Regions from separate parts of the Homo sapiens genome. Here all the other regions are linked to region 3. The links come from fine-mapping of genetic effects on gene expression. A gene starts in region 3. Each other region holds a variant in brackets. All regions are shown on one strand. Distances are between the middles of the regions. Region 1 holds the start of MIR6830 (microRNA 6830). Region 2 overlaps RAD50 (RAD50 double strand break repair protein). Region 3 holds the start of RAD50 (RAD50 double strand break repair protein). Region 4 overlaps RAD50 (RAD50 double strand break repair protein).

Region 1 (7,771 bases), 340 kb before region 3:
CCGAGCGGCCCATCCCAAAGCAGTCATCCACACTCAGCATTGCCTGGTACTTGGTTCCTACAGCAGGGGAAGTAAATTGTCAGGCTCCAAAGAGCCTCTGGATTAGGGAAAGAGATTCCCACTTCAAGGAAAGCCTGAGCCACTGGATAGGGGGCATCACCAAGCAGAACTCCATCGGACATTTAGACTGCATATCCTAAAGGGCCACTGACACAGTGAGCACAGACAGATGGCCCAGCCCTGCCCTGGACTGGGGTTCACAGCCACCTCTTAGCCTCAGATTCCCCATCTCCCAAGTGGGAAGGGGCCTTTTTAGGGGGAGCCCCAGAAACCCACCAGGAAGCATTGTTGAGGACAGTGGGAAGGTCCTGTGGACCACAGAGAAGAAGATGTCTGGTGGGCAGTTTGCCATATGAGTCTAGAGGATGGAAAAATTAGCTGAATATAAAAAACATAAATTTAGGTGGCAACCAAGCCATGGGTGAGGAAAATAGCTTGCAGGAACTCTGAGGAAAGAATGGAGAAGATGACTAAGGCCAGAGCTCCAGGGAGCACCTACCCAGAAAGAACAGACAATGAATAACCCTGAGAATGAACTAAAGATAGGAGAAACAGAGGGAGCGGGAGTGGTGTGAGAGACACCAAGGGAGGCCAAGAGCCAAGGTTGCAGTGCCAGCTTTGGCTGTTAAGTGGCAGGGACCTTGCTGAGTATCAGTTCAGTGGGTCTTATGACCAAAGGTCATCTGCTGTAGAGGGAGTGCTGGAAAGTGACCATGAAGATAGTTTCAAGCCAATATGAAGAAGCAGCTATAGGGAGATGCAGGATTTAGGGTGAGCTCAAGATGGGAAAGACTATGTGTGTGGTTCCTCAGAGAATAATGAGAAAGCAGATACCATGGAGGGGAAGTGGGGGCTGTGACTCTCCCTGGAAAGCAAGGAAGACTCCCCACAGCCCCATTAACAGCAACCTGGGCATGGCTGACACAAAAGAACTCAGAGAAGGCTCTTTCTGCCTGGAATGAAACCACTACACAGTAGGCTAAATGCTTCAGAGACCAGGGTCTGCTAACCCCGGTGGCTCAGGAACCAATAACGAGGAATAGGAAGTTGGGGACAGTAAACACAAGATGAAGTCCCTAGGTAGGCCAGGGACTGGGGGGCTCCTGGAGCCCCTTTTCCTTCTCCACAGGTCTCCTCTGGCTCTGCAGGCCCAGGAACCTACATTGCTGGGGCAGAGTAACATAGCTGACTGAGCTGGGGCTCTGGAGCTGAACTAAACTAGGTTTGTGTTGGCCTCACTAGGGCGCCAACCAGCTGTGTGACTATAGACAAGTTACCATATCTAAGTCTCAGTCCCCTTATCTCTAAATAAAGATAATATCATCAATTTTAAAGAGCTTGTGGCAAGAATTCAATAAGATGACATATGAAGATGTCTCCTATGCTCCCCAGGATGCTAATGACCAGTAGCTATTATCAACATGTCTCCCAGATGCCAAGAATGCTAAGAATGGCTCCCTGGCACTCAGCATCCTCCCCAGAGCCAACTCGAATGTCTACTCCCTGGAGAGCATTTGGGAGAGTGACAGCTGAGCTGAGTGCTGATAGGCAATCAGACATGGAGTAGCCTAGCTGACATGGGTAAAGGTATTCCTATAGAGGGGTTGAGACAAAAGAGCTGAGTGATAGGGAAAGCTGAGTACAATGGGCAAGGAAGCCAGGAAAATGGAGTCATGCAGGACCCCAAAGACCACACACAGGAGGAGTTTGGGTTTAGCTTTGGAAATTAAGCACAGTAATCAGGAACTCATGTGAACAAATGTGTGCTTAAGACCACATGGAGGATGGTCTTAAGCAGTAAGCTGGAGGTAGGAGACAAGTCAGAATGGTATTTTGATAATCAAATTGAGAAAAAAGTAGCTGTGAGGCTGGAGTCAGGGGATAAGCACGGAAGACATGAGAGAAGGAGGTAGAATCCATAGGCCTTAGGCTTCTGGCTTAGGCAGCCAGAGGATGGAGGTCCTTTTTGCTGAGATAGAAGGATGAGGGGGAAGGTAAAGTGTTTACAAGGAGATGAGGATTTCAGTTCAGGACACATGAAGTTCGAGAAGTCCATGGGACATTCAAGTACAGATGTCCCAAAGGCATCCGTCTACACTGGTTAGAAGCTCGGGAGACAAGCCTTGGCAAGAAACACAGATCTGGATGTCATCCACCTCAGGTGATGGAAATGGCTGTGCTCACCTGGGGAAGGTGCTCAGGGAGAAGATGAGGTAAGGATGGAGTCCTAGGGAGTAATTCCTTTCTGCCCCATAACCCTATTCAGGACACTCATGGGTTTGCTGAGTGAACGTGAGAGGTCAACGCCAGGGTATGGTTCCCTCCTCCAAGCAACCAATCTCAAGGCTACAGAGTGAACAGATCTTGCAGGTGCCCTGAACTGCCCTCTCTCTAATGGAGTCTAAAGGGGGCAGCTGAGGTTCTGGAGCTGGAATAAGCTGGGTCTGCATGAGCCTCACACAGTGAATCGCTGGGGTTACTTGTCTCCAGCAGCCCTCAAAACATCTTCTTATAAACACTAACACTGGGAAGTCAGTGGGAGAGGGGCCACTTGAGAGAAAATGACCAGAGAGGCTAAAAGAGAAGCAGATATCAGTATGCCAGAATTCAAAGGAGGAGAGAACATCACAAAGAATGAGGCAATCTATCTGTCAAATGCTGCTGGGAAGTTAAAGAACATTATGTGTGAACCTTGTTCGCTGGGTTTACCAGCCAAGCGGCCACTGATGACCTTGTAAGAACAGCATCAGTGACAGTGGGGAAAAAGGCCAGATACTGTGAGTTCAGGAGTATATGGGAACCAGGAAAATGGACAGAGTGTAGATTACTCTATCCAGTAGCCTAACCAGGAGGGGAGAAGAGATGAATCAGCAGCAAAGACTCGAAAGACTCTCAGATACCGAGGGAGGCAAGTGTTAAGATGAGCAAGAATAGAGCCTATATGGGAGCTCAAGGGTAGAACCCAGAGAGGTGGAGACAGAATGTATAGGAGCAGAGACTGTAACTAAGAGGACTCAAGACAGGGGGATAGTAAGCCCAGATCAGCCTTAGATGAAAAGACATTGGAGGGTGGGAGACAAGAAGCAGGTCTGAATGCAGATCTGTGTGGTGCTCTGGGGACAGACGTGGAGGGGGTTCCTGAGCAGCAACTTTGGCTTTCTCTGAGATGCAAGAGGAGAGGGCCTTGGCTAATACATGGAGGGAGGTGGCAGGGCAGGGGCTGAGGGAGAAACCTGTCATGGGAGAGGGAGTCCAGCACAAACTGGTGAGCCAAGAGGTGCACCAGAGGTGCACCCGAGGTTAAAGGCCACAAGTTGGTGGTGGCTCCAACCTGTCCCGCCACTAAAGAGACACATGCGGGACAGGCAACGCCTGGAGTGGTGAGTTACCTGGAAGTTCCCCTCTGGAAATTGTGCCTGGGTCCAGCCTGTATGTGTCCTGAAGTCTCATCAGGGCTTTGGCAGCTCCTATCTCGTCCTCATCAGTGGGGAAGAACTGCCGCTGCACAGAGAGGTTGGCGATAAAACCTTCCAAATGAGAGTCAGAACAAGAGATTACCCTTGATCCAGGGGCAGAATTCCACTTGGGACCAGAGAGGCAGCCACAAAGAGGGTCTCTGGCTAGTGAAATTTCCCCGCCCCCTCCCTCAAAGGCTGTTGCCCCCTTCCACCAGGAAGTTGTCCCTGATGACTCCAGTCTATGGGGACTTTTCCTTTCTTACTCCTCACCATACCTACTGCCTGTGTTGCTCTTTGGAACTAAGTAGAAGCAGCCCCCCATATTGGTTAATATTTAGGAGTCCAGAAGTCTTGGCTCCAAATCATTCAGTCAGAGCTGGTGGAGACAGAAGAAACAGAGGATAGAGAGGGTAACTGAGAAGAGCACGGGAGAGGACTCAGGAAGAACTGTCAACCACTCAGTGGAAAATAAATCCCATGGAAAACCTTGATCCAGGGTAATTGGGCTAGTCAGGTAAACACAGACTTCCAGCACACATTTCAAGTTGAGGAGTCCAAGGGACAATGACAGTTAACTAATGAAGCCGAGCTGGCCACTCATTACTGACCACTGGCACTTATCATCCAGAAAGGTGATGATGAAAGTCCTGGAAGTCATCCCCCTCCCCCTAGGTTGACAGCTGAAGGACCACCTAGACAGGCCAAGGACCAAGGTGGGGTTGCACCAACCCAGCAAGGTCCGTCCCCTAAGAGACCACGGTGGGCCTGTTCTCCTCTGTACTCCCACCACTCAGACCTTCAATGAGTTCAGGGCATGGGCTCTCCAGTTATGGTGCTCAAGACCACAGCCTGAAGCGTGGGAGAGCTTTTGACCACAGAAGTACTCCAAGGAGGCTTTTCTGGGACTCCAAGCCCTAGCTGTAAAGTAAGATGTGTACCTCCTACAATCCCAGGTGGGAGCCAAGCCTTCCCAGGCTGACTTAGGGCCTTCAATTCTGCCTCTAAGCTGAGAAGTGAGAGGGGAACAACAAGGCCATTCCTTCCCCAACCTCTTCCCAAGAGTAGCTGTATCCACTGCCACCTATGACTTCAGACCTAAACATCCACTTCAGCCATAACTGGGGACAGGGACCAAGAAGCTGTAACCCTGCCTTCCTTGTCTTCATAGCTACATGGTCAGGGACTCTAAAGAGTTTAGAATCTGGTGGGGTGGGAGTAGGGGAACATGCTGCCAGGAAAAGCCACACTGTCAGCATGCCCTGCTCGTTTCAGGGGCAAGAACTCAAAGTCAGAGATGAAAACAACCAATTATTCTCTGGGCCTGCCCTATCTCCTTCCAGGTAATCATAAGGTTTTCCAAAGGAACCAGATGATGGTGGGAGTGTAGGGTGTGGAGAACAAGATTGGAGAGAGGAGGTCATCTGGGTAGGCTTAGTCTCCTGCCGTGCAGGCAGAACAGCCTGTCCCGAGCTGCAGGCCCAGGCGGAGAGGCGGGAGTCTGGGAAAGGCAGCCGTGGTTTCTGGAGGCAGTGAGCTCACTGGGCACAGCTCCAGCCTGGCTGAGCTCACCAATCCCTCTCCAGAGGCCACCCTGCCCCCAGGCCCAACCCAGTCTGGCCACATGGGCTAAAATGTCTCAGCCAGAGAGACAGCTAGTCTGAAGTTAATCAGCACTCACAGCTCAGGGAAAAGAGGCAGTGAAGAGCTGGGTACAATGGCACTGTGCCTATAGTCCCAGCTACTCAGGAGGCTGAGGCAGGAGGATCACGTGAGGCCAGGAGTCCAAGGTTGCAGTGTGCTACAATCGCACCTGTGAATAGCCACTGCACTCCAGTCTAGGCTAATATAGTGAGACCCTGTCCCTT[T/TAAAAAA]AAAAAAAAAAAAAAAAAAAAAAAAAAAGGCAGCGGGCATGGTGGCTCACACCTGTAATCCCAGCACTTTGGGAGGTGGAGATGGGTGGATCACGAGGTCAAGAGATCAAGAACATCCTAGCCAACATGGTGAAACCCTGTCTCTACTAAAAATACCAAAAAAAAATTAGCTGGGCATGGTGGCATGTGCCTATAGTCCCAGCTAGTCAGGAGGCTGAGGCAGAAGAATTGCTTGAACCCGGAGGCAGAGGTTGCAGTGAGCCGAGATCCCGCCACTACACTCCAGCCTGGTGACAGAGTGAGACTCAGTCTCAAAAAAAAAAAAAAAAAAAAAAAAAGTCAGTGAGTCCAGGGGACTAAACCCAGGGCTAGGAGTTAGGAGAGCCCACCTCCAGGCCCACCGTACCATCTCTTCTTATTGACAGAAAAGTATTAGGGCATAAAAAGTATTATCACAATAAAAGCACCAAGTATAGTTTAAAGCTTTTAAAAAGTTCACACTCTCATCGGTAATATCACTTCTAGGAACTTACCCTAAAAAAGTAATCAGAAGTATACACCAAGAAATATGTAAAAAGGTGCTGATAATTCAGAAAAAATCCCATATCCAATGACTTGACCCATTTGACAGTATTATCAGTATGACAGATTATCACCATCTGACAGGTAATCACCATCCAGCCATTAAAATCATGTTGCAGAAGAACATTGAATGGCATATAAAGAAGCTGAGAAATTCACAGAATTTTTTCTTCTGTCACAAATCTACCAACAGATATGCTTTGTTTGTAAAACATATGAATAGGAATGAATTTAGATCAGACCTATGCTCCCCAACTTGCCCTGGCCCCACCATCCAGCCCACTTGACACTTGTAAATTCATTGTCCCTCCAAGCAACTGAGTTTGCATGCCCTGGTATGTATGTATAGTTCCATTTTTTAAATGTATATGCATAGGTAGAAAAACTACAATTTTAATAATGCTCACCACTGGGCAACTGGATTAAGAATTATAATTCTCTTGTTTTTGTGTTTTCCGACTTTTCTATAAACATGTATCACTAAAGTATAATTGGAAAAATGTCATTAGCAAAAAATAAGAAAAGACAGACACTAAAAAAAAGACGCTAAAAAAAGAACTGAACATCATTACATGTTAAAAACCAAGGCCAGCCAACTTCCAGGTCCCCACAGAGAAGGGAGAGAGCCATGAGACCAGCAGGGTCCTGTTTCCACAATGTACTTGCCCACCAACACCCAGACCCAAGACAGGCTCAGACACAACAACCCAGGCATGAGCACACAAACATATGGGCTCACTCAAGCACCTGCTCACCGTCCCTCACCTGCAGCTGAGTCCTGCAGGACAAGGTCCTCCAGCGCAGGCCAGTCTGTGTTTAGCCGCTTCACCAGTTTGTAGGCATTCACAGGGTGAGCCAGGTAGCCCTCAGCATCAGCAGCTGACTTGCTAGTCAAGGCTTCCATTTTGTTGGCCCAGCTGTGGAACCAGAGGAAAAGGAAGACTAATGCGTCCACCCACATAGGTCTTGACCTGTGACAATTTTCCTAGTGAGAATTCCCTGGTGCCAGGTTCTGGGGCCCTTTTCATCAAGAGGCAATGAAAAATGAATACAGTAACTCCCCACAGATACTTCTAGCCCCTTAATCTAGATAACAGCTGGGACCCCCAATGTAAGGGAAAAGGTCTTAAATAGAAAATAAACAGTGACTCCTTAGCCCATGTACTTAGCTCCTCTCAAGCACTGGCATGAAGTAACCAGGCCAGCCCCACATCACCCTCTCAAAGGTTTCCTCTTATAGGCACCCTGGATGGCTTCCTTGTTCCTTGAGGGGCAGAAGGGAAGGAAGGCCAACTAAGGATGGTTGGGGACTTAGGACACCTCTTAATCTTGGAAAGCTTGGCTTCCTCCACAAGGATGTACTCTTTCAGAGACTGCACCAGCTCTTTCTCTGCATAAATCAGGTCAGTCATGTGCCCTGCAAGGGAGAGAAGAAAGACACCAGTGAGAAACAGATGAGGGATGTCCAGCCTCCTTCCTTGGGGCACAGAATACCAGCACAGAAGCAAGTCCCCTGGGATAAGAACATGTCAGCTCTCTGAGGATTATGGGGACTTGGAGTTAAAGGGGGCCTAGGCACTCATGGGGCTCTATCTCGCAACTTCAGGAAGAAAGAGGCAGAGGCACCAAGGGGATGTTTGAGATAAGTGCACTGGATGTCACTCAAGAAGCAGCCCTAAATCTCATTCTCCGACTGTTACATAGCTGGTCATGACACTGGGGCATGGATATCCTGGGGGCTCACCACAGGATAAAAAGCTCTGAACTTTAGGTCGGAAGGATAGGAAAAGCTTGATCCTCAGGATA
Region 2 (7,917 bases), 87 kb after region 3:
AATACAGAGTTTGAAACATGGTCTCTTTGAATTAAAAATACTTTCAAAAATATCTTGAGGAAAAAGATTTTTTGTAGCTATTCTGAGTTATGAAAATTAATTAGCAATAATTGTCTCCTTGGTGTGAGGGGAGAGAACAAATAATGGAGGTGGGCCTCCAGCCTACCTAACACTGGCTTTTGCTGAGGCTCTAGCAGCCAGCCAGGGGCTCTGCATGTGAGTGGGTGGTGGTAGAGTTGACAGCAGTTTGGATTCAAAGACAGGAAGGAAATGCCTGTCCCTCACAGGGCCAAGCTGTGGCCCTGTCTTCTGGCTTGCCTAGGCATTAAAGAAAAGACATAAACTATTCTAAAATTACCAACTCACTGATGTGTGCGCACCCACCCACAAACTGAGGGGGAAAGGGGACTTACAGCTCACACCAGAGTAGTTTATACTTCCTAGAATAGCCCTACTCTCTCAATTCTGTGTGTCTTGTATCCTCAGATGGTTTCAGTGGGTCTGAGGGTTTTAGTATTAGGTTTCTAGTAACCACGAAAATGCCTAACAGTTCCAGTTACTTGGATTTTCTACAGGTAAGCTTAACTGAAACCACATTTCTATACTCCTGATACTTTGACCTAGGATTTTCTTTTTTATTCTCTCAGTCTCAGGATTATACACAAGAATATGGAAATTTAAAGGTAGCAGAGAAAAAGTGAGAGGCTCTAGAAAACGTGTCGAAGTTTTCTAACAGATCCCATTATCAGGCAAATAGCCAGGTCAAGAATTTTTAAGGTTGCTCATCTTACAGGATTATTAAAATTACAGATAAATGGCATTGTCTCTGTTTCTAGCCTTTGGTCTCAAGTTGGTTGTAGCTGATGTAATTTTTTATGTGAGAGCATCAGCGTTGTTCTGAGCATTTTGTTTTGTGGTGAATGATAGGCTGAGATCATGCAGGTTCTCCTTCTGGAGGACATAAGAATCTGGTCCCAGTGCTGGGCTCTCCCAGAGGGCAGTGCTTTACCTAACAGTGAACCTGTGACGTTTCCCACTTTTCCCTGCTGAAAAGATCATGTCAGGACTGCTTGCCTGCCATGAGATGAGAAGGTCTGTGCTGGGCTTCTCACATAGGGGCTTTTTTCCAGGTATTAGCCTCACTCATCATTCGCCTGGCCCTGGCTGAAACGTTCTGCCTCAACTGTGGCATCATTGCCTTGGATGAGCCAACAACAAATCTTGACCGAGAAAACATTGAATCTCTTGCACATGCTCTGGTTGAGTAAGTATCTCTTGCACATGCTCTGGTTGAGTAAGTATCTCACATTTGGGGACAGGTTGTGATAGTTCTTCAAAACCAAGAGAGTTCTGTGATGAAAACGTTCTCTAGCTGTGTTCCCCACTTCTTGGGGAAGCCAGTTGGTGCCAGGCCCTGGGCTTTACCTTTTGATAGTAATTCTTCAGATCCCTCCTAAAGGAACTAGATGGTGAACAGCAGCCCCAGACACATCCTGCAGCTCCCCAAGTGTGTTCACAGGGAGAGAGTCACTGTGAGGGGTTCCTGGCCTGGTTTTCCTGTAAACCTACCAGAGGAACCCACATGTCATGCACAGCAATTAGCATGCCCTGCTAAGACATCTGCAGGTAGTGGTAGTGGGTTTAGGACTGTCTCCCCAGCTTTCCACATGTGTCAGAGAACTGTGAGGAATGACAGAGCTCTTACTCAAAAAGCTTATTTGAGATTAGGTAAAGTCCAGTGAGGGTAAAATTGCACACCTTTTACCACATTCACCTGGGGTCAGTGTAGACGCCAAGGTTGTCAAGCAGCTCTTGCATAAGGACTATGCTGGCAGAGAAAAAGGCAGTTTCCCTGAGGTCAAAGGAGGTGTTTCAGGCACTCCTGGCTCCAGACAGTCCCTTTCTGGCAGAGAGGGCCAGAAGGAGAGCTCAGCAGCGCAGGGCCACCTTTCTGCAGCCATCATCACAAGTAAGGGCGAGTGCTTTTGAAACCTCAAATGCATCCAGCTCCAGGAAGGGGATAAGTGGCTAGCTAAAAGAAAAAGTCTTTCAGGTTTCAGTCACATTGCTGGTTACCTCAGCAAAATGTTCCCAGAACACCCACTCAGGTCCCTGTGTGTCATAGTAATGATGCATCTAGTGACTGGTGGTGGCAGAATTCTAAGTAGACCCAGCTCTTAAGAAAGCAGTGTTATTCCCCTTACCTGTAGTTTGTCTTTATTACTTTTAAATTTTTCTTCCAGAGAAAAGTAGTAACAGGTCAGGAAAATCCCAGGCGAAGGAGTAAGCCTTCTATAGTTGAACAGTTTGGATATTAAGGAAAACTCAATAAAATATTTATACCTGCTTTAGTGAGAACTTCTGATCTGGAAGAAACTAGTTCTTGTATTCCTGTGAGTCCCTAAGCCAGACCTAAGTGAGGAGTCAGGCCATGTGTCCCTACTGTCTGGAGAGGAGAAGAGACTCCTGCCTGGCTGGCCTGAAGGCCTGGGGCCACCCCTCCACTTCCTGCAGGGTAGCTGGGGCCCTGACACACAGCACAAGTTCATGTGTCTGACAAGGTTTGCGGTGACTTTTCAAATCAAAGAAGGGGTTATGCTCTTTACTAATAATATGTTCTGAATATATTGTTGCAGGATAATAAAAAGTCGCTCACAGCAGCGTAACTTCCAGCTTCTGGTAATCACTCATGATGAAGATTTTGTGGAGCTTTTAGGACGTTCTGAATATGTGGAGAAATTCTACAGGATTAAAAAGAACATCGATCAGTGCTCAGAGATTGTGAAATGCAGTGTTAGCTCCCTGGGATTCAATGTTCATTAAAAATATCCAAGATTTAAATGCCATAGAAATGTAGGTCCTCAGAAAGTGTATAATAAGAAACTTATTTCTCATATCAACTTAGTCAATAAGAAAATATATTCTTTCAAAGGAACATTGTGTCTAGGATTTTGGATGTTGAGAGGTTCTAAAATCATGAAACTTGTTTCACTGAAAATTGGACAGATTGCCTGTTTCTGATTTGCTGCTCTTCATCCCATTCCAGGCAGCCTCTGTCAGGCCTTCAGGGTTCAGCAGTACAGCCGAGACTCGACTCTGTGCCTCC[C/G]TCCCCAGTGCAAATGCATGCTTCTTCTCAAAGCACTGTTGAGAAGGAGATAATTACTGCCTTGAAAATTTATGGTTTTGGTATTTTTTTAAATCATAGTTAAATGTTACCTCTGAATTTACTTCCTTGCATGTGGTTTGAAAAACTGAGTATTAATATCTGAGGATGACCAGAAATGGTGAGATGTATGTTTGGCTCTGCTTTTAACTTTATAAATCCAGTGACCTCTCTCTCTGGGACTTGGTTTCCCCAACTAAAATTTGAAGTAGTTGAATGGGGTCTCAAAGTTTGACAGGAACCTTAAGTAATCATCTAAGTCAGTACCCACCACCTTCTTCTCCTACATATCCCTTCCAGATGGTCATCCAGACTCAGAGCTCTCTCTACAGAGAGGAAATTCTCCACTGTGCACACCCACCTTTGGAAAGCTCTGACCACTTGAGGCCTGATCTGCCCATCGTGAAGAAGCCTGTAACACTCCTCTGCGTCTATCCTGTGTAGCATACTGGCTTCACCATCAATCCTGATTCCTCTCTAAGTGGGCATTGCCATGTGGAAGGCAAGCCAGGCTCACTCACAGAGTCAAGGCCTGCTCCCTGTAGGGTCCAACCAGACCTGGAAGAACAGGCCTCTCCATTTGCTCTTCAGATGCCACTTCTAAGAAAAGCCTAATCACAGTTTTTCCTGGAATTGCCAGCTGACATCTTGAATCCTTCCATTCCACACAGAATGCAACCAAGTCACACGCTTTTGAATTATGCTTTGTAGAGTTTTGTCATTCAGAGTCAGCCAGGACCATACCGGGTCTTGATTCAGTCACATGGCATGGTTTTGTGCCATCTGTAGCTATAATGAGCATGTTTGCCTAGACAGCTTTTCTCAACTGGGTCCAGAAGAGAATTAAGCCCTAAGGTCCTAAGGCATCTATCTGTGCTAGGTTAAATGGTTGGCCCCCAAAGATAGACAGGTCCTGATTTCTAGAACCCGTGACTGTTACTTTATACAGCAAAGGAAACTTTGCAGATGTGATTAAAGCTAAGGACCTTAAGACAGAGTATCCTGGGGGTGGTGGTGGGGTGGGGGGGGGTCCTAAATGTAATCACGAGTAAGATTAAGAGCAAATCAATTCTAGTCATATATTAAACATCCACAATAACCAAGATATTTTTATCCCAAGAATGCAAGATTTCAGAAAATGAAAAATCTGTTGATAAATCCATCACTATAATAAAACCGAAGGTGAAAAAAATTCTGAAAAAATTCTAGCAGCTATATTTGATAAAATTCAACATCTCCTAGCTTTAGCAAACTCACAGTTTTGCAAATAATATTTTCTTAATGTTATCTGTTGCTAAATCAAAATTAAACAGTCATCTTAACTGCAAAATAAAACATTTCTCAGTAAATATTAAAGCCAGTTACCTTCTATCAACATGTTAATGAAAGTGCTAGTTGTTGCAGCAAAGAATAACAAAGGCAATACACGATCAATATAGGCAGTGAAACAAAAGTATCATTTGCAAGTTAAAACAGACTTCCCAATTTTAAATCTGGTTTCCCCCTGAATATGTGGCATCCTTGGCAGCACTTCTGAGAGTGGCTGCTTTCATTCCAAGAAGCCCATGGGTTTGGAGGTGGGATAGGTGCCTTTCTGGCTTCTCATTGCTGCTTCTAGATCAGTCTCCAAATATCCCCCTTCCCCACATTGGAATGAATAGCCATCACAGCATGGATGGAGGTTAGAATGAGCCAGACTGCCTGGGCTCAAATCCTAGCACACCACTCACTAGCTGGGGACCTTGAGCAAGTTATTTGTCCTGTTTTCTGTTTCCTTATATGTAAAAGTGGGTAAAATGGTACATATTTTGTAGGGTTGTTATGAAGATTGAATGACATTATTTACAAACTGCTTAGAACTGCTTGCCACCTACTAAATACTGTGTAAGTGTTCAAGAAAAAGCTGTCTTCATTTCACTCTTGTTGCAGTTATCTTTCATTCCCAGCTTGGTCACTCCCTCTTATTTGTTGAAGAGTTTAGCTCCCGGTTCAGTGTCACCCCATTACTAATAATCATTGCTGATTTCAATATCCAAGTGATGGTCTAATACAACTCCTTGGCCTCTCAGTCTTTTTTATTTTTTGAGGTGGAGTCTTGCTCTGTCACCCAGGCTGGAGTGCAATGGCACCATCTCAGCTCACTGCAACCTCTGCCTCCCTGATACAAGCAATCCTCCTGCCTCAGCCTCCCAAGTAGCTAGGATTACAGGCATGTACCACCACACCAGGCTAATTTTTGTATTTTAGTAGAGACAGGGTTTCGCCTTGTTGGCCAGGCTGGTCTTGAACGTCTGGCCTCAAGTGATCTGCCTACCTTGGCCTCCCTCAGCCCCTTTTTGTTTCCTCCAGTGAGAAGATACTCAGTTCTATGGTCTTATTCTAGAGCCCCGTCCTTTTAATAACAATAACTGCACCCCTCCAAAATCTCAGTTTTAAGCATCTCACTCTCCAATAACCCCATGGTGTCTACAATTTTCCTGTGGTCCTCAACCCCAGCAATTCTTTGACCCCACTGAGATTTCAATCCATTGATTCTATGGCTTTTTCACAGGTTGTTTCCCTGATGCCTGTACTTCTCTCCTTATTCAACTTAAATTCCATGGCTCATCATTATGTCACCCTCCACTGCATTGTACTCAAACTGTCCCGACAATCCCCAGCCCTACTGGAATCCAGCTCTGCCTCCTCCCTGCAACACCTGCACATCCCGTTTCCTTTGCTGTTTCCTCCTCATTTCCCTGGCCCCTCAATGTCACAGGTTTTAGTACTCAGAGTCTGCACCTCTTTTCTTCTCTGTGCTCACTTATTTGGTGATCTCATCCAGTCTCATAGCTTTAAATTATCTTAGTTTGGGTTCTCCCAGAAGCAGAGCGTAAAACAATGCTTCACGTGAAAGTAATCAGTAGGAAATTGGGGAAATTGTGTATGAAAGAGAAAGCAGCCAATGAAAAGTTTACTATTAAGCCAGCTACGGTAAGTGGGCAATTAGAGTTTGGTGCCCCAGGGAGACTCTGGGGAGTTTGGCAAAATATATACCTCAGAATTATCCCACCTAAGGGGCAAGAGACCTGGAGTATTTATATAACAACTTGCCAGGGTTACTGAGTGAAGGCTATTCTAGCACATGTTAGTTACTGGCTTGCCATGTGTACCGACACAGCTGCTTTCCACAGTTTAAAAAGAAAGTCTGAGCAACATAGTGACATCCCATCTTTACATAAAATTTTTAAAAAATTAGCAAGGCATGGTGGTGCACACCTGTAGTCTCAGCTACTTGGCTGAGATAGGATCCCTGGAGTCTGAGGGTTCAAGGCTGCAGTGAGCTGTGATTTGTGCCACTGCACCCCAGCCTGGGTGGGTGGCAGAGTGAGACCCTGTCTAAAAAGACAAAAAAAAAAAAAAAAAAAAAGCAGCAGCAGCTGAAAGTTGGCAGGAGCACACTGGCAGTTCCTAGGATCATAGGATATAGGCAGGGCACTGACCACTCCTACAACCACCATCTATACACTGATAACTCATAAATGTTTGTGTCCAATCCAGATCTCTCCTAAATGCTTGACTGATATATTCAGCTGCCTGTGGATAACTGGGCATCTATCTGCACTTGAATATCTAATAAACGTCTAAAACTTAAAATGACCAAAACCAGTCTTTCTCCCAGAACTTGAATCTCTTCTGTTAATGGCAACTCCATTATTCCAATTGCTCAGGCAAAAATTGGCATTATCCTTGATTCTTTATCTTACATCTTATATCTAATTCGTCAGTTTAATACTATGGGTTCAATTTTCAAAACATCCGGAATCTGACCATGCCTCACCATTTAAACCAGCAGTCCCCAACCATTTTGGCACCAGAGACCGATTTAGTGGAAGACAATTTTTCCATGGACGGGTGGGGTGAGGGGGATGGTTTCGGGATGAAACTGTTCCATCTCAGATCATCAGGCATTAGTCAGATTCTCATAAGGAGCACGCAACCTAGATCCCTCACGTGCAAATTCACAATAGAGTTTGCACTCCCGTGAGAATCTAATGCCACCACCAATCTGATAGGAGGTAGAGCTCAGGCGGTAATGCTCCCTCACCTGTCACTCACCTCCTGTTGTGCGACTCTGTTCCTAACAGGCTGAGGACAGGTAATGGTCTGCAGCCCGGGGGTTGGGGACCCCTGATCTAAACCATCATTGCTCTGGTCCAAGCCACTGCCATCTCTAACCTGAATAATCTGAGTAACCACGTAACTGCTCCCACTGATTTGGGGCCTGCTCCCTGTAGTTCTCAACACAGCAGCCAGTGATCTTTTTAAAAAGTAACTCAAGAAAATGTGTTTCTCACAGGGGTGTGGGTTAGCAATTTCGAAATTTTTATGTACATACTAAAGTCAAACAAATACATACCTGTGTTGTAGATAATACGAACTGAGTTTCTCACTGTTGGAAAAAGGTGTTTGCATATCAGGAAAGGAGGCCATAAAAAGAACCCCTTGGTGTTGATTGAATCCAAAGGATCTGTACAAATTTATAATTTTAATATCTAAAGGATTTCTACTTCCATAAGGGTGGAGTAAAAGCCATCCAAAATCTGCTTCTTCATAAAAGCAATAAGACTGGCAAAAATGTCAAAATCAACTTTTTCAGAACTTTGGAAATTAACTAATGGATAGCGACAAACTGAGGTGTGTTTATTAAAGGAAAACAGCTGAATCTCAGAGCAGAAAGTGGCATTTTAAGTTGCCCTAATCCCATGCCCTTC
Region 3 (5,000 bases):
GGTGGAGGTTGCAGTGAGCCAAGATCGCACCATTGCACTCCAGTCTGGGTGACAGAGTGAGACTCCATCTCAAAAAAAAAAAAAAAAAAAAAGTCTCCACTTGAATAGTCAATTATTCAAAGATACACAAATGGCCAATAAACACATGAAATGATGCTACTAATAATTATTGAAATGCAAATCAAAATTACAATGAGGTATCACTTCACACTCATCAGGATGGCTACCATAAAAAAACATAAAATAACAAGTGTTGGCAAGCATATGTAGAAATTGAAACCCTTATGCACTATTGGTGGGAATGTCAAATGGTACAACCACTGTGGAAAACAGTATGGCAGTTCCTCAAATAATTAAAAATTGAATTACTGTATGATCTAATAATTCCACTTCTGGGTATATACCCAAAAGAATTGAAAGCAGGGTCCAGAAGTGACATTTGTACACCAATATATATAGCCACACTATTCACAATAGCTAAAACGTGAAAGTAACCCAAATGTCCATCAATAGATGGATAAGCAAAATGTGATGTGTATTGTAATGAATCTTATTCAACCTTAAAAACGACCTGAATTCTGATATATGCTACAGTGGTCCCCAACCTTTTTGGCACCAGGGACCAGTCTCACGGAAGACAGTTTTTCCACAGACAGGAGTGGGGTGATGGTTTTGGGATGAAACTGTTCGACCTCACATCATCAGGCATTAGATTCTCATAAGGAATGGGCAAGCTAGATCCCTTGCATGGGGCAACCTACATCTTTCTCATGGGCAGTTCAAAATACGGTTTGTGCTCCTATGAGAATCTAATGCCCCCACTGATCTGAGGCCCAGCTCGGGTGGTAATGTTCACTCACCTGCTGCTCACCTCCTACTGTGCCACCAGGTTCCTAACAGGCCAGGTATGCATACTGGTCAGTGACCCAGGGGTTGGGGACTGAGCTGCAACATGGATGAACCTTGAGGACATTATAAGTGAAATGAGCCAGTCACAAAAAGATAAATACTGTATGATTCCACTTATATGAGGTACTTAGTAAAAAATTATAGAGACAGTAAGTAGAATGTTGGTTGTCAGGGTTTGGAGGATGTGGGGAGGAAAGGGTTATTGTTTAATGGGTAGTTTGTTTTGCAAAGTGAAAAGATTTGTAGAGGTTGAAAGGTGGTGACGGTTGTACGTGAGTATACTTAACACCACTGAAATGTACACTTGGTTAAGATAGTAAATTCTTTTTGAGACGGAGTCTCGCTCTGTTGCCCAGGCTGGAGTGCAGTGGTGCGGTCTCGGCTCACTGCAAGCTCCGCCTCCCGGGTTCATGCCATACTCCTGCCTCAGCCTCCTGAGTAGCTGGGACCATCGGCGCCTGCCACCATGCCCGGCTAATTTTTTGTGTTTTCAGTAGAGACGGGGTTTCACCGTGTTAGCCAGGATGGTCTTCATTTCCTGACCTCGTGATCCACCCGTCTCGGCCTCCCAAAGTGCTGGGATTACAGGCGTGAGCCACCGCGCCTGGCCAAGACAGTAAATTTTATGTGTATTTTACAATTTTTAAAATAAAAAAAGGTCTTTCGTCTTTTCCCATTGTTTTATTACATTTGCTTTGCCAAGTAAGACATTCCTATATAATTTTAATGTTTTGTTCCATTAGTTATTTTAACTATTTTGTAATAACTGACACTTTCCGGTTTTTTTTAACCTGGTACAGCAAGAGACTATTTCTCACTGGTCTTCCCCACTTGCATCCTTTGGCACATACATTTATGTATTAGGTTCTGTAAATTATTTGCTTGGGATTGTATGACTGGAGAAACATTTCCTACATTTTTCCAAGGCAGGCAGAGGCAAATTATACCACTACAGTAATTCCAAATTTGTGTTTCATTTAAATGTCCTCCACTATTGTTTCAGTAATTTTTATGTATGTTTCTCTAGGCCCTTAAATGTGATATCCCTCCATTAAGTTTGTTTCCAAGAAAGCAATATTCTCAGTTACTTCTGAGACAGGTAACTTCTCTTTCCCTTATTTTTAAAGATATCTATTGCTGGGAGCACTGATCGGAATGGATTACCTCTACATTCTTCATATTTGCAGACTGCTTTTAGTTTTAGTTCCCAGACTTTTGGTCTTAAAGACGCCTTTACACTAAAAAATTACGGGGGACCTCAAAGAGCGTGTACGTGAGTTATAATTATCAACATTTACTCAATTAGAAATTAAAATTGGTATTTCTAAGCGCAAGAATACACATGCGCACATTCCATTAACCGCCACTGCAATGGCGTCATCACATGTTATGTGATCACTGGAAATTACTACACGAACGTTAGAGAGAGAATGAGAATGAAAAGGAAAATAGTTTTGACACGAACTGACCCCGCTTCCTGGGTCTCCAATCCACCCCACCACTACCCCCATTCCAGGAGTCCCAGGATCAAGCTTTGGGAAGCGCCATCCGTCACAGGTCTTGGTCTCCCCTTCCAAAAGTCAGTGCCTCTCCAGGCTGCCCATCCCCAGCAAAGATCCGGAAGTCCGCTGCCCCTGGCAACAGCACCCAGCACCTAGCCCTCTGCTTCGCCGTACCGCACCCGGAAGTCGGAGCTGCGCACGCACCGCGGGACTCTGATTTCCCGGCGTGCCCCAGGAGAGCGGCGTGGACGCGTGCGGGCCTAGAGGCCCACGTGATCCGCAGGGCGGCCGAGGCAGGAAGCTGTGAGTGCGCGGTTGCGGGGTCGCATTGTGGCTACGGCTTTGCGTCCCCGGCGGGCAGCCCCAGGCTGGTCCCCGCCTCCGCTCTCCCCACCGGCGGGGAAAGCAGCTGGTGTGGGAGGAAAGGCTCCATCCCCCGCCCCCTCTCTCCCGCTGTTGGCTGGCAGGATCTTTTGGCAGTCCTGTGGCCTCGCTCCCCGCCCGGATCCTCCTGACCCTGAGATTCGCGGGTCTCACGTCCCGTGCACGCCTTGCTTCGGCCTCAGTTAAGCCTTTGTGGGCTCCAGGTCCCTGGTGAGATTAGAAACGTTTGCAAACATGTCCCGGATCGAAAAGATGAGCATTCTGGGCGTGCGGAGTTTTGGAATAGAGGACAAAGATAAGCAAATTATCACTTTCTTCAGCCCCCTTACAATTTTGGTTGGACCCAATGGGGCGGGAAAGACGGTAAGTCTTCAGTAGCCGCCTTCAGTTTACAGGTCGCTACATCTTTCGGAGAATAAAATGGGAAGTTGAGAACTCTCCTTAGGAGCAGAAGCGTCCCTAGGGCTCCACAGGTGTAGGCCCTTAAAGTGCCTTAGGGTGTGGCCTGCAGGCTACAGCGACCTTAGGAGTTTGCCTGAAGCAGTCTCGGAAGGATGTCCGGACCTGGCCTGGGGACAAGGTTTACTTAAGAATCCCACGATACCGGGAGCTGTCGCCGCTCACTCAGAGTTCAGTTCCCACTGGATGCCCTTTGGTCTGTATTGATGTTTTTAACGCTGTCTCCTTGCTTTCAAAGCATAGCATTCACTTCCCAGTAGTTGTCCCATACAAGAATTCCTTTAAAAGTTATAAAATGATACATACATGACTAAAGAGTTTCCAAGTATGCCAACTGTCCAGACATAATACATGGAAAATAAATAAATTCAAAATGTAACTGATGTAGTGGGGCTTAACTTGGAAAACTTCTCTTCTTAAAACTCAGTCAAAAATTTAACGTTGGTGCACGACTGACTTTTTTTTTTTTTTAAAGCCGTGGGAATATTTATAAATTTGAATGGAAAGAATAACCAAGAGGCATTCTGGTCAGGAATAGTGGCTTAAGAAAAAGCAAGACGATGTCAGTATAGCAGGGAGAAGAGTCTAAAGGAAGGATTTGTGAAGAGTGTAGAAAGAGAGAAGGTTGAGAATTGAATGCCAAACTTGTTTACTTTTGTTTTTGTAAAAATGTTATTTGTTGAATGCTTGTTATGTACTTAGGATTGTACTAAATACTAGCAGAAGGGAGAGTAGTACTGTATAGTGTTTATGAGGACTGGCTGCCTCAATACAGCTTTTTCGCTTCATTTATTAGTTGTCTGATTGTTTGCGAGTGACCTCACTGCTCTGTGCCTTAGTTTTCTCATTTATAAAATGGAGATTAAAAATAGTTTCTACAGCTGGGCACGGTGGCTCACGCCTGTAATCCCAGCACTTTGGGAGGCCGAGGCGGGTGGATCACCTGAGGTCAGGAGTTCGAGACCAGCCTGGCCAACGTGGCGAAACCCCATCTCTAATAAAAATACAAAAATTAGCCAGGCGTGGTGGCGCATGCCTGTAATCCTAGCTACTGGGGAGGCCGAGGCGGGAGAATCGCTTGAACCGGGGAGGTGGAGGTTGCAGTGAGCCGAGATCACGCCATTGCACTACACCAGCCTGGGTGACAGAGGGAGACTCTCTCCCCCCACAAAAAAAAAAAAAAAAAAAAAAAAGTTTCTACAGGCTGGGCATGGTGGCTGACGACTGTAATCCGAGCCGTTTGGGAGGCTGAGGCTGGGGGATTGCTTGAGCCCAGGAGGTCGAGAGGTCGAGGCTGCAGTAAGCCATGATCATGCAGCTGCACTGCAGCCTGGGCAGCAGAATGAGACCCTGTCTCTTAAACAAAAAGTTCCTACAGCCTGGAGTTAATGTGAGAATTAAATAAATGTATGTAAGAGTGCTTAGTACAATACAGTACTTAACTGTTAGCCATTCTTATTATTAACTTAAATTAGTTTAAAGGGTTTCAGTTGAAAATAATTATTTTTTTCCCAAGTAACAATTCTTCATATTAGGATAACTTCTTAGTTATATAGCATTTCTGTGAACTTACAGCATTAACACTTAATCATATTTTTATTACAGGTTTTATAATGTCAGATTTTATCTTTTATAGTTTCCATGATAAATAATATTTTTGTAATGAATTCATATTTTATGGTAAACTTCTGTGGTTCTCTTATAACGAAATAATGTAATTTTCTATTTCTTTAGACCATCATTGAA
Region 4 (5,000 bases), 34 kb after region 3:
GCCAGGGATACTGGGTAAGAGAAAGGACAGGAGGGAGCTAGGTATGGTTATGATTAGAACAAAAAGAGAGTCCTTGTAGTATTGGAACTGTTCAGTATCTTGACTGCCATAGTGGATATATGAACCGACACAGGTGATAAAATTATATAGAACTTAATATACACACATCCACATGCTCAGGGGTACAAATAAAATTGGGGAAATTTGAATAAGATTGATGAATTATATCAATATCAGTATTCTGGTTGTGATATTTTACTGCAGTTTTGCAAAATGTTATCATTGGGAGAAACTGGGCAAAATGTACAAGAGACACACTGCATTATTTTTTATAACTCGTGAATCTGCAGCTATCTCAACTTTTTAAGCACCAGTTGAAAAAAAAATTATGAGATTTTTTTTTTAAAAGGTCGTCTACAGCTGCAAGCAGATCGCCATCAAGAACATATCCGAGCTAGAGATTCATTAATTCAGTCTTTGGCAACACAGCTAGAATTGGATGGCTTTGAGCGTGGACCATTCAGTGAAAGACAGATTAAAAATTTTCACAAACTTGTGAGAGAGAGACAAGAAGGGGAAGCAAAAACTGCCAACCAACTGATGGCAAGTATTTTGAAATACAGTATTTGTTATTTTGTTTGCATCATATTCTCTACTTGAATTGTTTTAATTTTTGGTTGGACTCCATTTTGGCATATTTTTCTATTAGTGTTAGGATAAAATCTGCTACAAGGCAGAAAAACCTTTATTGAAGCAAATGTTCTTAAGTGTATAAAGATAAAAATATGAAGAAAATGTAAACCTACATTTTTTATTTGGTTTTAAGTAAAAATTTTTAAAAACTAATTGCAGAGAAAACATTTGCTCACAGTTAATGATTATCTCTGGGTAATGGTTTTGATTGTTTTTAAAATACAGTCTTGAACCACATGTTTTGGTCAGTGATAGACCACATATTTGACATTGGTCCCATAAAATTATAATACTGTATTTTACTGTATGTTTTCTGTGTTTAGATATGTTTAGATACATAAATACTTATCATCATGTTACAGTTGCCAAAGTATTCAGTACAGTAATATGCTGTATAGGTTTGTAGCCCATAAACAATAGGCTATACCATATAGTCTATGTGTGTATTAAACTATACCATGTAGGCTTATGTAAATACATTCTGATGTTCACACAATGATAAAATTGCCTAATGATGCATTTCTTGGAATATATCCCTGCTGAGCAACACACGACTGTACTTTTTTGTATTTTCTTCAGTGTACATATATTCCTTTTGCAATTAAAAAACTTAAATTGTTTAGTAAATTATTAATGCTCATTCTTTACATATGCATTTAGAATGACTTTGCAGAAAAAGAGACTCTGAAACAAAAACAGATAGATGAGATAAGAGATAAGAAAACTGGACTGGGAAGAATAATTGAGTTAAAATCAGAAATCCTAAGTAAGAAGCAGAATGAGCTGAAAAATGTGAAGTATGAATTACAGCAGTTGGAAGGATCTTCAGACAGGATTCTTGAACTGGACCAGGAGCTCATAAAAGCTGTAAGATATTGTTTGAATAATCTAATAATTTTAAGATATAATACTTTTAGAAGTATTTTGTCTATTTTTGATCCTAAGATTATAGCATTTTAATAAAAACATCAACTTTGTCTTATTCTCATGTAAAATGAATTCATCTGAATATCTTGATCTTCTGACTCTTTGGTTCTACAACCCGATAGCCTGAAAATTAGAATCACATAGGGAGCTTTTTAAAGATACTGTACTCAGACCTTAAAGCTTCAGACCTTCCAAATCAAAATCTCTGAGAATGGGGCATAGAAATGTACATTCAAAACACAACAAAACTGGCTAATTCTTATGAGCACCTTGATTAAGAACACTTACCAGGCCGGGTGCGGTGTCTCACACCTGTAATCCCAGCACTTTGGGAAGCCAAGGCAGGCAGATAACGTGAGGTCAGGAGTTCAAGACCTGTCCAGCCAACATGGTGAAACCCCGTCTCTACTAAAAATACAAAAATTAGCTGGGCGTGGTGGCGTGTGCCTGTAATCCCAGCTACTTGGGAGGCCAGGGCAGGAGAATCGCTTGAACCTGGGAGGCAGAGGTTGCAGTGAGCCAAGATTGCGCCACTGCTCTCCAGCCTGGGTGACAGAGTGGGACTCCATCTCAAAAAAAAGAAAAAGAACACTTGCCAAAGTTTTAAAAAAGCAAGTATTTTTCCTCTAGGTCACACACGTTGTAATTCTAGATGATTTTTGCTGTATTATTACTTTTTCTGTGTTAAAAACTTTCTTAGCCAATCTTTTCAGGTATTTCCATATTTTCTTTCTTGCTTCTAGTCTGTCCTCCTTCTTCACATCTCCATTACCAAAGTAAGCATTCTAAAGCATGGCAAACTTCTTAAAGCCCATCTTGATAATTTATGTAAACATTT[A/G]TTTTTGCTCCATAACTCACCATTGTAGCATACATTTTTGTCAGTTTAGCACTTCATCAGTGTTGTCTTGTTGGGGTGGGGAGATACTTGGTCAGGGACCACATCACACTATTTTTATAGTTTCTACATACCAGGCAATATAGTGAATTACATGGGGACATAATAAATATTTAATTGTTGACTGAGGACTCACTAATCTGTGTACTTAGACACATGTCTCCTAATTTTACAGTAATTCTCACATTTCTTTCCTGTTTGACCCTTCTAGGTTTATTTACTAATTCTCTACCATTATAACATAGTAAGGTCACTTTAATAAGATATACCTTAGAGCATATATAGTGCCTTATGTTTTTTTCTCTTGTTGGATGCAAACAGTAATATTTGGAACATTCTGAGGAGTAGTTAATTTCTAATACACTTTGTCATTATTTTAATTCTTGCACAAAATATATAACACCTTTGCATTTGTATGAATTATTGACTAGGAACGTGAGTTAAGCAAGGCTGAGAAAAACAGCAATGTAGAAACCTTAAAAATGGAAGTAATAAGTCTCCAAAATGAAAAAGCAGACTTAGACAGGACCCTGCGTAAACTTGACCAGGAGATGGAGCAGTTAAACCATCATACAACAACACGTACCCAAATGGAGATGCTGACCAAAGACAAAGTATGATTTTTCTTTTTGTTCTAATTATACTGTCTGGTACTTAAAATAGCCTACCTTGCACTCATAAGTCATAGACTATAAGGTATTAAGTTGGTATTGACTATATTTTAGAGGCTAAGTGAGCTTAGTACTCTATATAATAGACTTTCAAGCTTAAAAGTTATTGTTTAATTACAAAAAGTTAATACAGAAATGTATATATATGTATATACACACATGCACATTACTGTTAACTTTTAACATACACAAATTTTAAAATTTTATATTGTTCGACTTGGTACTCCACTCTTAAGGCTTAGAAAGACCATCCCCACTTGAAGACTTTAAGAACTTTAAGAAATTTTATATTTTATTTTCATATTTTTATAGTTTTAAGCTTAGAACTTTAGTCAGTCTAGAATTTATTTTTGTTCTTGATATAATGTGGAGATATAGACTTTATTTTTAAAAGATTTTTTTTTTACCTATAGGCTGACAAAGATGAACAAATCAGAAAAATAAAATCTAGGCACAGTGATGAATTAACCTCACTGTTGGGATATTTTCCCAACAAAAAACAGCTTGAAGACTGGCTACATAGTAAATCAAAAGAAATTAATCAGACCAGGGACAGACTTGCCAAATTGAAGTAAGTTGCAACATTTGGAGATGTAATAGAAATCTCTTATTTCATGCTTACCTGTTTAATTGTTTTAAAATAATTTATTGTCATGAAATGGTATGTTATATTGATAAACTTTAGTTCTTACATACAAGGAGACTTCAGAAAGTTCATGGAAAAATGGAATTAAAAGATAAAAATTTTAAATAAACTGTATTTCTCAACATAAGCTCCATCAAGTTCAAGACTCTTCTGAGCAGTGATACCAGCAATTTAGTTCAGTCCTAAAGAACTGAGGGTCCTGGGAATTTAACCATGTCAGTGTAGTCTTTTTTACATTGCTAGCATAAAAATGGGTGCCCTTTAAAGATTTTTTTAAGATTAAGAAACTAGAAGACAGGAGGAGCCAAATCAGGACTGTAAGGTGGATGCCTAATGATTTCCCATCGAAACTCTTGCAAATGGCCCTTGTTTGATGAGAGGAATGAGCAGGAACATTGTTGTGGTGGAAAAGGACTCTCTGGTGAAGCTTTCCTGGGCATTTTTCTGCTAATGCTTTGGCTAGCTTTCTCAGAACACTCTCATAATAAGCAGTTGTTACCTTTCTTCGGCCCTCCAGAAAGTCAGCAAGCAAAATGCCTTGAGCATCCCCAACAACTGTTGCCATGACCTTTGCTCTTATCTGGTCTGCTTTTGCTTTGACTGGACCACTTCCACCACTTGTTAGCCATTGCTTTCATTGTGCTTTGTCTTCAGGATTGTACTGGTAAAGCCACATTCCATCACCTCCTGTTACAATTCTTTGAAGAAATGCTTTAGGAACTTGATCCCACTTATTGAGGAAGTTCTGCTGTTGTCTGCAGCTGATCTGGAAGCAGTGATTTTGGGCATCCATCAAGTAGAACGTTTACTCAACTTTAATTTTTCAGTCAGAATTGTGTAACCTGAATCAATTGAGGTGTCTATGGTGTTGGCTATTGTTTCTGCTGTTAATCATTGATCTTCTTCAGTTAGGGCATGAAGAAGATGATTTTTTTTCCTCACAAATTGATGTGAACAGTCTGTCACTGTGGGCTTCATCTTTAATATCGTCTCATCCCTTCTTAAACTGAGTTATCCATTTGTAAACTGCTGATTTGTTTGGGGCATTGATCTCATAAACTTGTTGTAAAGTATCAATGATTTCACCATTCTTCCACCCACACTTCACCATAAATTTGATACTTGTTCTTGCTTCAGTTTAATTGGGGCTCTTTTCAAACTGATGTCT

What was found. PIP is the estimated chance that this variant, and not a neighbour inherited with it, causes the effect. A credible set is the group of variants that fine-mapping cannot tell apart.
Region 1: its variant is the best candidate, but not a certain one, in a credible set for the expression of RAD50 in prefrontal cortex (ROSMAP, PIP 0.61).
Region 2: its variant is the best candidate, but not a certain one, in a credible set for the expression of RAD50 in blood mononuclear cells (TOPMed, PIP 0.65).
Region 4: its variant is the best candidate, but not a certain one, in a credible set for the expression of RAD50 in whole blood (INTERVAL, PIP 0.89).

The regions. Positions count from the first base shown.
Region 1 is chr5:132,210,467-132,218,237 of GRCh38, forward strand. It overlaps P4HA2 (prolyl 4-hydroxylase subunit alpha 2), which reads right to left. Exons shown (of 15, transcript NM_001017974.2): 3 at 7,286-7,382; 4 at 6,731-6,882; 5 at 3,450-3,587; 6 at 1-57. It overlaps MIR6830 (microRNA 6830), which reads right to left and starts at 7,452; the gene lies at 7,383-7,452. The variant T/TAAAAAA (reference allele first, on the strand shown) is at 5,384.
Region 2 is chr5:132,639,542-132,647,458 of GRCh38, forward strand. RAD50 (RAD50 double strand break repair protein) reads left to right here. Exons shown (of 25, transcript NM_005732.4): 24 at 1,131-1,264; 25 at 2,637-6,808. The coding sequence ends at 2,823. It overlaps TH2LCRR (T helper type 2 locus control region associated RNA), which reads right to left. Exons shown (of 3, transcript NR_132125.1): 2 at 2,657-2,741. Among named protein-coding and RNA genes, the nearest start is that of TH2LCRR, 13 kb to the right of the region's middle. RefSeq lists enhancers at 78-157, 1,259-2,654 and a silencer at 1,821-1,970. The variant C/G (reference allele first, on the strand shown) is at 3,107.
Region 3 is chr5:132,554,296-132,559,295 of GRCh38, forward strand. It overlaps RAD50 (RAD50 double strand break repair protein), which reads left to right and starts at 2,682. Exons shown (of 25, transcript NM_005732.4): 1 at 2,682-3,158; 2 at 4,989-5,000. The coding sequence starts at 3,030. It also overlaps a transcript of IL5 not described here. RefSeq lists an enhancer at 2,305-2,965.
Region 4 is chr5:132,588,278-132,593,277 of GRCh38, forward strand. It overlaps RAD50 (RAD50 double strand break repair protein), which reads left to right. Exons shown (of 25, transcript NM_005732.4): 8 at 410-603; 9 at 1,354-1,560; 10 at 2,947-3,129; 11 at 3,600-3,757. Among named protein-coding and RNA genes, the nearest start is that of RAD50, 34 kb to the left of the region's middle. The variant A/G (reference allele first, on the strand shown) is at 2,459.